2 linked regions of the Homo sapiens genome follow. The protein of the gene in region 1 interacts with the protein of each later gene in a pairwise test. Each region holds a gene or a part of one and is shown in the gene's direction. Other genes may lie near its edges.

The links. Proteins that work in one complex are often made in the same cells at the same time.
Region 2: the proteins of NT5C3A (region 1) and DESI1 interact in binary tests that used the Homo sapiens proteins (3 or more experiments, as listed by UniProt).

The regions. Positions count from the first base shown.
Region 1 is NC_000007.14:33,024,764-33,031,791, reverse strand, and holds part of NT5C3A (cytosolic 5'-nucleotidase 3A), read left to right. Parts: intron 1-2,077; exon of another isoform or gene 2,078-2,163; intron 2,164-4,876; coding exon 4,877-4,975; intron 4,976-7,028. UniProt on the Homo sapiens protein: Nucleotidase which shows specific activity towards cytidine monophosphate (CMP) and 7-methylguanosine monophosphate (m(7)GMP). CMP seems to be the preferred substrate.
Region 2 is NC_000022.11:41,604,034-41,611,061, reverse strand, and holds part of DESI1 (desumoylating isopeptidase 1), read left to right. Parts: intron 1-3,200; coding exon 3,201-3,222; intron 3,223-3,432; exon of another isoform or gene 3,433-3,536; coding exon of another isoform or gene 3,537-3,574; intron 3,575-3,730; coding exon 3,731-3,800; intron 3,801-6,908; coding exon 6,909-7,018; intron 7,019-7,028. UniProt on the Homo sapiens protein: Protease which deconjugates SUMO1, SUMO2 and SUMO3 from some substrate proteins. Has isopeptidase but not SUMO-processing activity. Desumoylates ZBTB46. Collaborates with UBQLN4 in the export of ubiquitinated proteins from the nucleus to the cytoplasm.

The DNA.
Region 1 (7,028 bases):
ACATATTTATAAATTAAAAGTACAAGTAATTTTTTTAGTCTTGGTTAAAATATGAATTGTTTTCTCTGTACATTGTGGATTGTATAACCCTTAGTTTATTTTGTTTTTTATTTTTAGTTTAAGAATAATAATTCATTATTTTAAATATAATGTATTTATGTGTGTTTTTTAATACAAAATCTTTTTATTTATTTATTTTTTTTTTGAGACAGGGTCTCACTGTGTCACCCAGGCTGGAGTGCAGTGGCATGATGTCAGCTCACTGCAACCTCTGCCTCCCAGGCTCAGGCAATCCTCCCACCTTAGCCTCCGAGTATCTGGGACTACAGATGTGCACCACCATGCCCGGCTAATTTTTGTATTGTTTGTAGAGACAGGGTTTTGCCACGTTGCCCAGCCTGGTCTCGAGCTGCTGAGCCCAAGTGATCCTCCTGCCTCGGCCTCCTAAAGTGCTGGGATTACAGGCATGAGCCACCATGCCCGGCCGTGTTTTCTTTTTTAATCAAAATTTAATATAATTTGAAATCTAGTTCAAACAGAATTAAACTTTGAAGTTGTCATAATCTCATCCTGGAAATTAGGATTATCCCTAGTCTGGAATATTATCATTGGATTGATGATACCAAGCCACACCCAGAAATTTGGTAACTGTACTATGGAGCTTCTCTCTTTTTTTTTTTTTTTGTTTTTTTTTGAGGCAGAGTCTCGCTGTCGCCCAGGCTGGAGTGCAGTGGCGCGATCTCGGCTCACTGCAGGCTCCGCCCCCCGGGGTTCATGCCATTCTCCTGCCTCAGCCTCCAGAGTAGCTGGGCCTACAGGCGCCCGCCACCTCGCCTGGCTAATTTTTTGTATTTTTAGTAGAGACAGGGTTTCACCGTGTTAGCCAGGATGGTCTCGATCTCCTGACCTCGTGATCCGCCCGCCTCAGCCTCCCAAAGTGCTGGGATTACAGGCCTGAGCCACCACGCCTGGCCAGAGCTTCACATTTTTATCTTATCCCAGTGTATCCACAAGATCATATCAAATCTAATATTAAACAATTGAGTTGTGGATAAAATGGCATAACTTTGAAATCCATTTCATCTCTATAAATATATTAAGTATTGGTCAAAATAAGTGAATTTTAGGTCTTTCTTAATCATTTTTGGTGTTGATTCAGATTGGCATCAATCAACCAACATACCCTGATTCTTTTCAGGAAGGCATTGCTCCCTCCCCAACATTTTACGCTGCGGCTTTACCATAAAATGAATTTGTTCTCTTTTTATCACAAATGATGGAAATTTTTAGCTTCTTATTTATTTTTCATAAAATTTTATCATAATCAAATTGAAAATTTTTCAGACAATTCAAAATACCTTGCCCTTCAAATTTGAAGTATCATTATTTATATGCCACCAAACCAAGTCTGTGTTTTTATAAGAGGGATATAGACAGAAGGACTTTGTGGAGGTAACAAAAGTATGTGATCTCATGCAACAGTTGGGGCATGTTCAACAACAACCACCACAACAAAAAGTATGTGATGTATTTCATCATACTTCTACAGTGTGCTTATATTATGATACTCTTTGACATATTCCATACAGGAGTCTTTGATTCTCTTTCTTAGGCTATATTGTAAAGTATTTGAGTAAAATACCCCATATCTCAAGTTCTTGTGAAGTATTTCTCATATAGATCAGTGACATTAATTGTGTATTGCAGGAGAGGAGTATAGTATACTATATAACCCAAGACAGATAGAATGGTCATTTTTATATTTCTTATACCTATTTCATCATTATTTTACTCCCGTGCCATTTGTGTATTCACTACTTATGAATACACAATGAAAATGAATGGTTGTATGTTGCACAGGAGCCACCAATGCCTTTAGCTACTGGTTCTCTTTCATCCATTGTGATTTAAAGTAAACCAGTATTGGCTGGGCATGGTGGCTTACACCTGTAATCCCAGCACTTTGGGAGGCTGAAGCGGGGAGATCACTTGAGCCCAGGAGTTTGAGACCAGCCTGGGAAACACAGCAAGACCTTATCTCTATAAAAATAAAATAAACCAATCTTACATTTGTTAGTGTAGCAGAAACCAGCCTTCTTCGAAGTGGTCTTGGTGTGATTCTCCTATCCGTTATCAAAAACTTGAAGCTGTGATTTGCCTGAGGTAAGACATCTTGGGTACACTGAAATCAAATATTTAATTTTTTTGGTGAAAAAATAGTCTATGATATATATCCTGTGTTGCTTTCACCATAATGGATTGGTTATTGAATCAAACATATGCTGATTGCTGTGCATCTGCCAGTTAAGGCTGAGGTAAGAACAGAAATTAGTTGTCAAGAGATAAACTTACTAGCTGAGGTATTTGTAAGGGAGTTACAGAAGTGATATTCCAAAACAGCAGTGGTCCCTAAAACTCAGCAGAAAAGCAGAGTAAATACTACTCATCATCATATCCCTAGCATTTAGCAAGAGTGTGTGGCACAAAGTAGACACATGGTAAATATTGGTTAGGCGAGTGAATGGGTTAATGTATGAAAAAAAAAAATAGGAACCAGTGCCTATCTGCCTTTCCATCTATTGAAAAATCACTATAAAATACATAGATAACCTTTAAGCCATTGAAACTCATCCAGTTGAGTTAAAAGGATTACTACATCAAGGTTAGTTGCATTGCAGGTCATCCTACTTAAATATGGCTTTTTAAAATTAAATATATTGTAGGTGGTAGATCTTTCATCCATGGAGAAAATTTTAATGTTAGCATTTGTCTTTTCTCTACACTTTCTTTTTTTTTTCAAGCTCTGCCTCCCGGGTTTACGCCATTCTCCTGCCTCAGCCTCCCAACTAGCTGGGACTACAGGCACCCGCCACCACGCCCAGCTAATTTTTTATGTTTTCAGTAGAGACAGTATTTCACCATGTTAGCCAGGATGGTCTCGATCTCCTGACCTCGTGATCTGCCCACCTCGACCTCCTGAAGTGCTGGGATTACAGGCGTGAGCCACTGTGCCCGGCCTCTTTCCTCTACACTTTCGTTATCATCTTCCAGTCTTTGGAAGACAGTCCATCCTTTTTCTGATTTTTCTACTCTTGCCCATTATGTAGGAACAACACGGCATCTGATAGATTTACGTGGTGAGATTCTCTTGTAGCAAAGATAGAAGGTCCAGGGAATTTTTGTAACCATGTCCATGACACACATGAACTATGTTAATATTACTAATAACATACCCAGAATAAAAACATATAAATAAAGATTATCCAGTACAAACCAGTATAGAACTTGGATTTGAGGTACTATTATTGCCTATGCTGTATAACTGACTATAAAATGAGGCATAATTTTCTCCTTCTAGTTGTATTGTACATGTGCTATGAGAGCTTGTACTGATTTTTCCTCTAATCAGTTTCATTCTATTTGTGATAAAATAGCTAGTAACAAGAAATAATACTTAAGATTAAATTGTTGAGCAACCCTAAAGTCTTCATAACTCTGTAGTAGCAGCCTACACCCATTTTTTAAGATGGGTCTTGCTGTGTTGCCCAGGCTGGTCTCAAACTCCTGGGCTCCAGTGATCGTCAGCTTCCAAGTAGCTGGGATTACAGGCATGTGCCACTGTGCCTGGCACAATACTTTTTGGCAGTTATCTCCATTTGAAATAAATCTATTGTAAAATGTGTGCCAAGAACAGTATATTATTTGGAAAATAGTACAATAAAAAGAGCAAAGATCTTGAAGCAGCTTTTCAAATTTAAAATATTTTAAATGTATTTTAATTATACAAAGACAAACTTTTGGGGGAATAATTGTGATAATTGCTTCCTTTCTGCTCAGGAACATTTTAAAATATAAATATGTAGGCAAGCTAAATGTATGTATTAATTCATAAAAGCCAGATGCAAAAGTATATAATGAGGATGAGCTAAAACTATATGCGTATATATGCATGTTTCAGAGGGATATGCTGAAGGTATTATATTAGTATTAGGGTGGAAGTTTAGTTACTGTATTATATAAAATGGAGGCTTAACGGGAGTCATCTTAAGATTTTTAGAAAAATTAATCAATCGAGGGGTAGCTGCTGGGGTATTCATGGTTAAAATATGATTTCTGGGCTCTCTGGATTGCATCACAACCCAGAAATGAAACTAATAGAAAATCACAGAAATGAAACTAATAGAAAATAAATTTAAATGTTACTTGTTTATCTTCACGTAGTTGAACTCCAGGCAGTTTTTATTGTCTTTTTTATATTTTTACTGTTATTTCTGTGGTAAGCGTGCATTGCTTTTATACTTAGAAAAAGATATATACTTTCTGATAAAGCAATTGAATCACAAATGTAGTTTTATCTTACTCTGTAGCTGGAAAATACTGATAAGTTTTAAGTATTTTTGTGTGTATAAATGGTAATGTGGGAGCTGGGCTTGGTGTCCCACACTTTTAATCCCAGGACTTTGGAAGGCCAAGATGGGAGGATTGCTTGAGGCCAGGAGTTCAAGATCAGCCTGAGCAACAAAGCAAGACCTCACTCACTTCTACAGAAAATTTTAAAAATTAGCTGGGTATGATGGCGCATGCCTTCTACCTACTCAGGAGGCTGAGATGGGAGGATCATTTGAGCCCAGGAGTTTGAGGCTACGGTGAGCTAGGATTGTGCCACTGCACTCCAGCCGGGGTGACAAAACAAGACCTCATCTCTAAAAAAGTAATAACAAAATAAATAAACGGTAATTTGATGTGGTGGCTTGCTTTTTAAAAATAATGCCTTAATATTTTTATGTCTTTAAATAAGACAGGTTTCTGCTTGGTATCAAAGGAACCTGGGGAAAGAAGAATGAAAACTAATTAATTAATTTTCTTTTACTTTTAGATGCCAGAATTCCAGAAAAGTTCAGTTCGAATCAAGAACCCTACAAGAGTAGAAGAAATTATCTGTGGTCTTATCAAAGGAGGAGCTGCCAAACTTCAGGTGAATAATTATCAAGAAGCCTTGGCTGTGTGTGTTGGCTCATGCCTGTAATTCCAGCACTTTGGGAGACTGAAGCAGGAGGATCACTTGAGCCCAGGAGTTCGAGACCAGCCTGGGCAACATAGTGAGACCCCATCTCTATTTAAAAAAAAAAAAAAATGGCCGGGCATAGTGGCTCACACCTGTAATCCTAGCACTTTGGGAGGCCGAGGCGGGTGGACAAGGCTGAGGTCAGGAGTTCGAGACCAGCCTGGCCAACATGGTGAAACTCTGTCTCTACTAAAAAATACAAAAATTAGCCGGGCCTGGTGGCGCATGCCTGTAATCCCAGCTACTTGGGAGGCTGAGGCAGGCTAATCACTTAACCCCGGGAGGCGGAGTTTGCAATGAGTTGAGATCATGCCACTGCACTCCAAAAATAAAAGCTTAATAATAAAGGCTTCTTTTTTTTTTTTTTTTTTTTCTTTTGAGATGGAGTCTCGCTCTGTTGCCCAGCCTGGAGTGCAGTGGCGCAATCCTGGCTCACTGCAACCTGCTCCTCCTGGGTTCAGGCGATTTTCGTACCTCCGCCTCCCCGAGCAGCTGGGATTACAGGTGCCAGCCACCACAACCAGCTAATTTTTTTGTTTTTTGAGACTGAGTATTACTCTGTTGCTCAGGCTGGAGTGCAGTGGCACGATCTCAGCTCACTGCAACCTCTGCTTCCCGGTTCAAGCAGTTTTCCCTCCTCAGCTTCCAGAGCAGCTGGGATTACAGGTGCCTGCCACCACACCCAGCTAATTTTTATATTTTTAGTAGAGACAGGGTTTCGCCATGTTGGCCAGGCTGGTCTCAAACTCCTGGCCTCAAGTGATCCATCCACCTCGGCCTCCCAAAGTGCTGGGATTACAGGCGTGAGCCATCATGGCCCAGCCTTATTTTATTTTTAATGTTAAAGCCGACTCATTCATCTCCTGTTTGATAAAATCTGAGTACAGCAAGTTTAGGTAGACAGTTTTTGCCTATCCTTTAGGAATATAAAATCCAGAAAATATATATCTTGAGTTGTTCTAAAACAGACAGAATACCCTATTGGAAAAACAAAAGTTAATAATCCTGAAATACTCTTAAGTTTTTATTAGTCTTAAGTAAGAAGCTAACTCATGCTGTGTACAAGCATTAAACCATTTTAAGGATAATATTTAAAAGTGTTTAGTTTTATGCTGCTCTTTCATGTTTTAATCATAGTAGTTCAGATTAAGATACAGCCTTATTAAGGGGATAATTGAGTTTTTAAAAAGTTGTCTCTGTTTTAAAGGAATGTGTTACATGTAAATTAAATCAACAATCTGGATATTCTGTAAAAAAAAAAATTATTCCTTTTTTAAAACATTTCTGAAAAATAATATTTAACCCAGTCTCCTAAGTTTCAAGAGCTGGCCAGCTATTTCAATGTGCATTCATTCATTGGTATAGTTTAAATAAGCAAGTTAAATCCAGCATGTAATGGTATCAGTAACTAAGAGCTTCATATAGTTGAATTGCTTCCACTGCATTTTTGTGCATTGACCAAGTTGGTCGAAAATCTCTAGTGAGAAGAGTAGCCATATCACCTGCAATTGCAAATTCCCATACCAATTAATCAGATTTTTTCAAATTTTTATTTATTTTTATTTATTTAATTTTGTTTTATTTTTTCGAGATGGAGTCTTATTCTGTCGCCCAGGTTGGAGTGTAGTGGCATGATCTTAGCTCACTGCAACCTGCGCCTCCCAGGTTCAAGTGATTCTCCTGCCTCAGCTTCCTGAGTAGCTGGGATTACAGGCACATGCCACCACACCTGGCTATTTTTGTATTTTTAGTAGAGACAAGGTTTTACCATCTTGGCCAGGCTGATCTCAAACTCCTGACCTCGAGTGATCTCCCCACCTCGGCCTCCCAAAGTGCTGGGATTCCAGGCATGAGCCACCGTGCCTGGCTGGATTTTTTCAATTTTTAAAGTCGATACATAATAACTGTATATATATATGCGGTACATGTGATATTTTCAAATGTATATAAAATGTGCAATAAT
Region 2 (7,028 bases), on another chromosome or scaffold:
GTTTGAAGATGCTCGTCCTAAATGGATTACCACTCCCCTTTGGCATCCAGTCTGGTTCTCATCAACCACTGTGAAATTTCACCTCAGTTTGGATAAGGTCAGAACCTGCCTCACATTCTTTAGGGTGCTATCCCCAGAAACCCCTGGCTAGGATCCCTCTATCCACTTGTGGTCTTTTTTTTTTTTTTGAGACAGAGTTTCGCTCTTTTCACCCAGGCTGGAGTACAATGGCGCCATCTCAGCTCGTCGCAACCTCCGCCTCCTGGGTTCAAGTGATTCTTCTGCCTCAGCCTCCCAAGTAGCTGGGATTACAGGCGCCTGCCACCACGCCCAGCTAATTTTTGTATTTTTAGTAGAGACGGGGTTTCATCATGTTGGCCAGGCTGATCTCAAACTCCTGACCTCAGGTGATCCACCACGCCCGGCCCACTTGTGGTCTTCCGGGCCAGAGCAGCAGATCTCTTGGTGAAAAGCAGACTGATCTCTGGAATTGGAACAGAGGCAGAAGTACTCCGCTACATTTCATTTTCTTGTTATTCCATTTAGCCTGGGAACACTAACAGCAAAGAATGGAATTTTACATGTAAAATAGATATAGCATTTCATATTAATTTGCTGGATGTTGAAATCTGTTCTTAGATTTTACTTACCAATACTGAAGTAGAATTTTTTTTTTTTTTGAGACAGAGTCTCACCCTGTTGCCCAGGCTGGAGTACAGTAGTGGCACGATCTCGGCTCACTGCAACCTCCACCTCCCAGGTTCAAACGATTTTCCTGCCTCAGCTTCCCGAGTAGCTGGGATTACAGGTGCCTGCCACCATGCCCAGCTAATTTTTGTATTTTTAGTAGAGACAGGGTTTCACCATGTTGGTCAGGCTAATCTTGAACTCCTGACCTGTGATCCGCCTGCCTCGGCCTCCCAAAGTGCTGGGATTACAGGCGTGAGCCACCGTACCTTGTCTTTTTTTTTTTTTTTTTTTAAGATAGAGTTTTGCTCTTGTTGCCCAGGCTGGAGTGCAATGGCGCAATCTCGGCTCACTGCAACCTCTGCCTCCTGGGTTCAGGCGATTCTCCTGCCTCAGCCTCCCGAGTAGCTGGGACTATAGGCATGCACTACCATGCCCGGCTAATTTTGTGTTTTTAGTAGAAACGGGGTTGTTGACCAGGCTGGTCTCGAACTCCTGACCTCATGTGATCTGCCCGCCTCGGCCTCCCAAAGTGCTGGGATTACAGGTGTGAGCCACCACACCTGGCCTATTTTTTGTTTTATTTGAGACAGGGTCTCACTCTGTTGCCCAGGCTAGAGTACAGTGGCGCAATCTCGGCTCACTGCCTCCCAAGTTCAAGCAATTCTCGTGCCTCAGCCTCCTGAGTAGCTGGGACTACAGGTGCATGCCACCACACCCAGAGAGTTTTTTTATTTTTATTTTTAGTAAAGACTGGGTTTCTCTGTTGGCCAGGCTGGTCTTGAACTCCTGGCTTCAAGTAATCTGCCTGCCTCGGCCTCCCAAAGTGCTGGGATTACAGGGGTGGGCCACTGTGACATGTCTGAAGTAGAATTTATTTTTATCTTCTGGAAGTCTTTACCCTTTTCCCCAAGGAGGTCATTGTACCTAATAAGAGCCTCCATTTATCAGACATCTGTATATCACATACTGTGAAGCTTTCTATACATTAACATTACCAGTCACAGCAACTCTGAACTGGAGAAACAGACTTAAACAGGCTGGGTAAACTTGCCCAAGATCCACCACTAGGAAGTGGAAAATCCAGGATCTGAACCCATATGGTCCCCTTAACTATCTCTGAGGATGCTATGCCAAGTGTGTGGTGGCTCATGCCTGTAATCCTAGCACTTTGGGAGGCTGAGGCAGGTGGATCACTTGAGGCGAGGAGTTCGAGACCAGCCTGGCCGACATGGCAAAATCCTGTCTCTACTAAAAATACAAAAATCAGCCGGGCTTGGTGGTGCATGCCTGTAATCCCAGCTACTTGGGAGGCTGAGGCATGAGAATCACTTGAACCCGGGGGGCAGAGGTTGCAATGAGCCGAGATCACGTCACTTCACTCCAGCCTGGGCAACAGAGAGACTCTGCCTCTAAAAAAAAGAAAGGCACAGGGCAAACAGCGAAGGTAGCAGTTAGCAATCAGTAATCTGCCATGTCGCCGTGTGAAGTGATAAGCAGGAGTGAGTGGGTGATGTTTGCTGACACTCCACGTCTTTCAATGCCCTTCCTCTGCCTCCTGAGCACTGCTGTAGAGTATCTCTCATGGACTCTTGTGATGGTCTGCTTGGTCTGCTCTCTTCCCTCCAATTCATCTGCTATCCCACAACTACAGTTATCTTTTCCGAACATGGATCTGATCAAGGCACTCTCCAGCCTCACAGCCTCTTTGAGTCCAGGCCTGCCCGCTTTGCTGGCCATCCTGTTGGCCGCTCCTCCCCTTGGCACCATCACTGCCCCCTTCACTCTGCCCTGCAGGCTTTAGACTTCACAGCCATGCATGTGCACATCTTGTTCTCTCCCACAGAAATGTCCATCCCTGCCCTTACTTGTCATTGGTAATGGAAGCTCACAAAAGTAGTTTATTATATTTAGTACCTTATTTTTACCACTATGATACAGCATATTAACATTGTGTTTTAGTTAATTATTTGTGTGTCTCAGTCCATTTGACTTTGAGCTTCTCAAGGGCAGGAAAGTGATACGTTCCTGTTTGCATTTCCACACCTAACATTGTTTCTGGCACATAGAGGTAGAATAACGTGCTTTAACTATTTAAATGGATAGCATTTGCAAAGTTTTATCCTATCAGTTTCTGAAGGATTTCACCTCAATGAAGAAATGAGTAATAACATTCATTGTATTACTATAGTCTTACTGTACGTGAGACAGAGAAGTTAAAAAGGCATAGCTGAATTGACCCCAAAGAGGAAAGAATAGCAGACATAAAACTGGGGTACCTTTATACTAGTGTTTTTAATCTTGCATTCTGATAAAAGACTCTCATTACTTTTCAACTTACTTACACTCTGTCACAACCTAAAGACCTTACTGGAGGGGACTTGCATTCCTAGAAAGTCCCTCAAGAGGTTTATGACAGGTTACCCTGGGTTTGAGTGATGTCATGAATTTACCAAGGCTGAGGGGCCACTTATTCTAGTCCCAAGTGGCTAAATCTCTTCTTCTCTCCACAGGGAAACAACTGGAAGGCATCTGGTAAGTTGGGTGGGTCTCCTTACTTTGACTAGTTTTGAAACAAGGCAGCACTCTATGCATTTCAGGTTCTAGTCTGTGGCTTCCAGCATGAAACCTAGCTCTCCATGCTATAAATCTTCAAGCCCTAAAGCAGTGCTTCTCATCAGTTCTTTTGCTCTCTCACCCTGGGACATTTGGCCATGTCCAGAGATATTTTTGGTTGTCATACAGGGAGGAGGATGCTACTGGCATCTTGTGGATAGAGGCAGGGACGCTGCTCAACAGACTAGAATGCACAGGACAGCCCCACACAACAAAGAAGTATCCAGCCTCAAATGTCAATAGTGCCAAGATTGAGAAGCCCTGATCTGTGGTATTTATCATATTCATACCTTTGGTTTGTTGGTTTTATAAGACTGGTCCCCACAGTCCTATCCTTGGGCAGAAATTACTCTCATTGCATTATGGTGTTTGCTTTTTCTCAAAAGTTTAAGTTTTCTGGCTTACTGTGTCTCTCTCTGTGTGACAGGCACACATCCATAGTTGTGCACAAGGATGAGTTCTTCTTCGGCAGTGGTGGTATCTCCAGCTGCCCCCCGGTGAGTGTCTTCCCCTACACTCTGTCCTGCAGTCTCAGGTTCCTGGGGGCTCCTGTAGACCAGGAGCTTTGCTTCTACTATGGACTTCTGGCATTGTTCCTCAAAGCCACCTGAAGACTTGGCTCAATAAAACCTTTCCCAGACACCCCAGCCAGTTCCTCTCCTCTCTGTTCCCATGGCACGTGTGGGTCCTTCTGTCTCACAGAGAGCATGTTATGGTGAAATGAGCTGTTTCTGGTTCTCCACAGGGAACTGTGTAAGCTCCTTGCGAGCTGAGACCTTCCATCTCCATCCCCTGCACAGTGTCCGGCTCATCCTAGGAACGCAACTGATGTTAAGCTGAATGATGAGGGCTCTGAGAAGCATCAAGACTTGCCCAAACTTAAACAGCCAATAAGGGACACCAGTCCTAGAACCCAGGATTATCACACTAAAGCCCACACCCTTTTCCGAAAATTTCTTTTTTTTTTTTTTTTTTTTTTTTTTTTGAGATGGAGTCTCGCTCCGTCGCCCAGACTGAAGTGCAGTGGTGCGATCTCGGCTCACTGCAAGCTCCGCCTCCCGGGTTCGCGCCATTCTCCTGCCTCAGCCTCCCGAGTAGCTGGGATTACAGGTGCCTGCCACTACACCCAGCTAATTTTTTGTATATTTTAGTAGATACGGTGTTTCAGCATGTTGGCCAGGCTGATCTCAAACTTCTGACCTCGTGATTAGCCCACCTCGGCCTCCCAAAGTGCTGGGATTACAGGCGTGAGCCACAGCGCCCAGCCTTTTCCAAAAATTTCTATCAGCTATCCAAGTGTTGTCACAGTAGGTGCTCAAGCAATGGCCAAGCAGCCATTCATTTTGGTTGTGTGTTTGTTTGTTTTTGCTACATCCTACAGGAAGGATTTTTTTTTTTTTTTTGAGACGGGGTCTTGCTCTGTCACCCAGGCCAGAAATGCAGTGGCACAGTCTTGCTTACTGCAGCCTCCACCTCCCAGGCTCAATGAATCCTCCCACTTGAGCCACCTGAGTGGCTAGGACTCAGCACCACCACGCCCTGCTATTTTTTTCTATTTTTTTAGAGATAGGATCTCCCTATGTTGCCCAGACTGATCTCAAACTCCTGGGCTCAAGCAATCTACTGCATAAGCCAGAATTCTCCCATTGCTTTTGGAATAAAAGCCAGAAAACTCAGCATGGCCTCCCAGGACCTACCTGATCTGGTCTCTGACTCTGACTCTGGCCAGCCTCTTTTAGGTTGTTCCCTCCCAACCCTCACTCTCTTCTCATTCTTTGAACACACCGTAGACATTGAAACCTGCACTCTGACATCAGTACACCTTCTTGATCCTTCACCTGGTTACGCCTCTCCATCCTTCAGATTTGAGTTGTGTCACTTTCTCAGGCAAGTCTTCCCTGATCCCTCAGACCGGGAAGGTCTCCTGTCATACGTACTGTTGGCATTCTGTACTTTTCCAGCCTCCCCTTAATTGCAGCTCATAATTATATACTGGTTAAGGGGATTTTTCAGTTTCCCTTCCCTGCTACACTAAGCTTCTTAACGGCAAGAATCTCATCTATTTTGTCCACACCACAGCCCCAGTGCCTAGCATAAGGCCTGACACATAATAAGTTCTCAATCCATAGTTGTTATATGAGTGAATAAGAGGGGTCAAAGAGTGACCTTTTAGTTTCTTACAACTCTGAGATAATTGTTCTCTGCCTACCATGGTTATCTTGCTCACCATGCTTTCCTCAGTGCCCAGAACAATGTCAGCTATGTAGGAGGTGCTCAGTGGCTATGAATGAATGATCTTTTCAGGGAGCTCTGTTCTGGAGTGTTATCCCTTCCCAGATTTGTTCTCCTGCTGATCCCGTTGCTTCCCCAGTGGCTGGTTTCCCCACTCAACCTCAGTCTCTCCTTCAGTTTTCTCTGGCAGTCTGTTAACCACATGGCTGAGGGTTTTCTGTAGGCCTTTCGGGAGCCATTAACTCCCTTGCCCTATGATGGTGATAGGGCAAGGATTAGGCTCACAGATCCAAAAAGAACTGAATTATGGAAATATCTGCCAGCCTGCCAGATTTCTCACCGTCCTCGTTTTTCCATTATTACACGGGATATCAAGTATATCATAAGAAAAACTGGCTGCATACTTTATGCAAATAGGCATGGAGAGATGGCCTGTGAAGTGTGAGCCATTTCTGTTGTCCTGTTCTGTCCTCATGATGAGACATACTGGGGACAAAAGTAGACTTCAGATTCTGGGTTTCTCTTTCTCAGCTGAGTAAGTGGACAGCATCAGGAGTCAGAGCTGCAAGAGAATCAGCTTCCCAGGGCCCCCCCTCCCCTCTAGAAACAAGAAGTCCGACTCCTAACTATGCTGCCAGCACATGGCAATGAAAAGTGACCAGAAAGCTCTAAGCCAAGCTTGTCCAACCTGCAGCCTGTGGGCCATACGCAGCCCAGGACAGCTTTGAAAGTGGCCTGACGTGAATTTGTAAAGTTTCTTAAAACATGAGATTTTTTTATCTTTTTTTTTTTTTAAGCTCATCAGCTATCATTAGTGTTAGTGTATTTTGTGTGTGGCCCAAGACCATTCTTCTTCCAGTGTGCCTCAGGGAAGCCAAAGGATTGGACACCAATGCTTCTAAGCTATTGCATCCTTGATACAAATAGCAAATCACATTCTTCATCTGCCCAGGGTGCTCTGCAAGTTAAATATGAAGTCAGGCTGGGCGCAGTAGCTCACACCTGTGATCTCAGCACTTTGGAAGGCCGAGGTGGGTGGATCACTTAAGGTCAGGAGTTTGAGACCAGCCTGACCAACATGGTGAAACCCTGTATCTACTAAAAATACAAAAAATTATCTGGGCATGGTGGCAGGCACCTGTAATCTCAGCTACTTGGGAGGCTGAGGCAGGAGGATCACTTGAACCCGGGAGGCGGAGGTTGCAGTGAGCTGAGATTATACTCCAGCCTGGGTGACGAGAGAAACTCCGTCTAAAAAAAAAAAAAAAAAAAAAAAGTCAGAACAGAGTGTTTGTGGTCTACTGTGGGAAGCCACATTAAAACATTCAGTGGAGATGGTAACTTAATGACTTCCTTTGGGTTGGCTCTTTTAGGGAGGGACATTGCTTGGGCCTCCAGACTCTGTGGTTGATGTGGGGAGTACAGAAGTCACAGAAGAAATCTTTCTGGAGTACCTCTCCTCCCTGGGGGAGTCCCTGTTCCGGTGAGTGGAG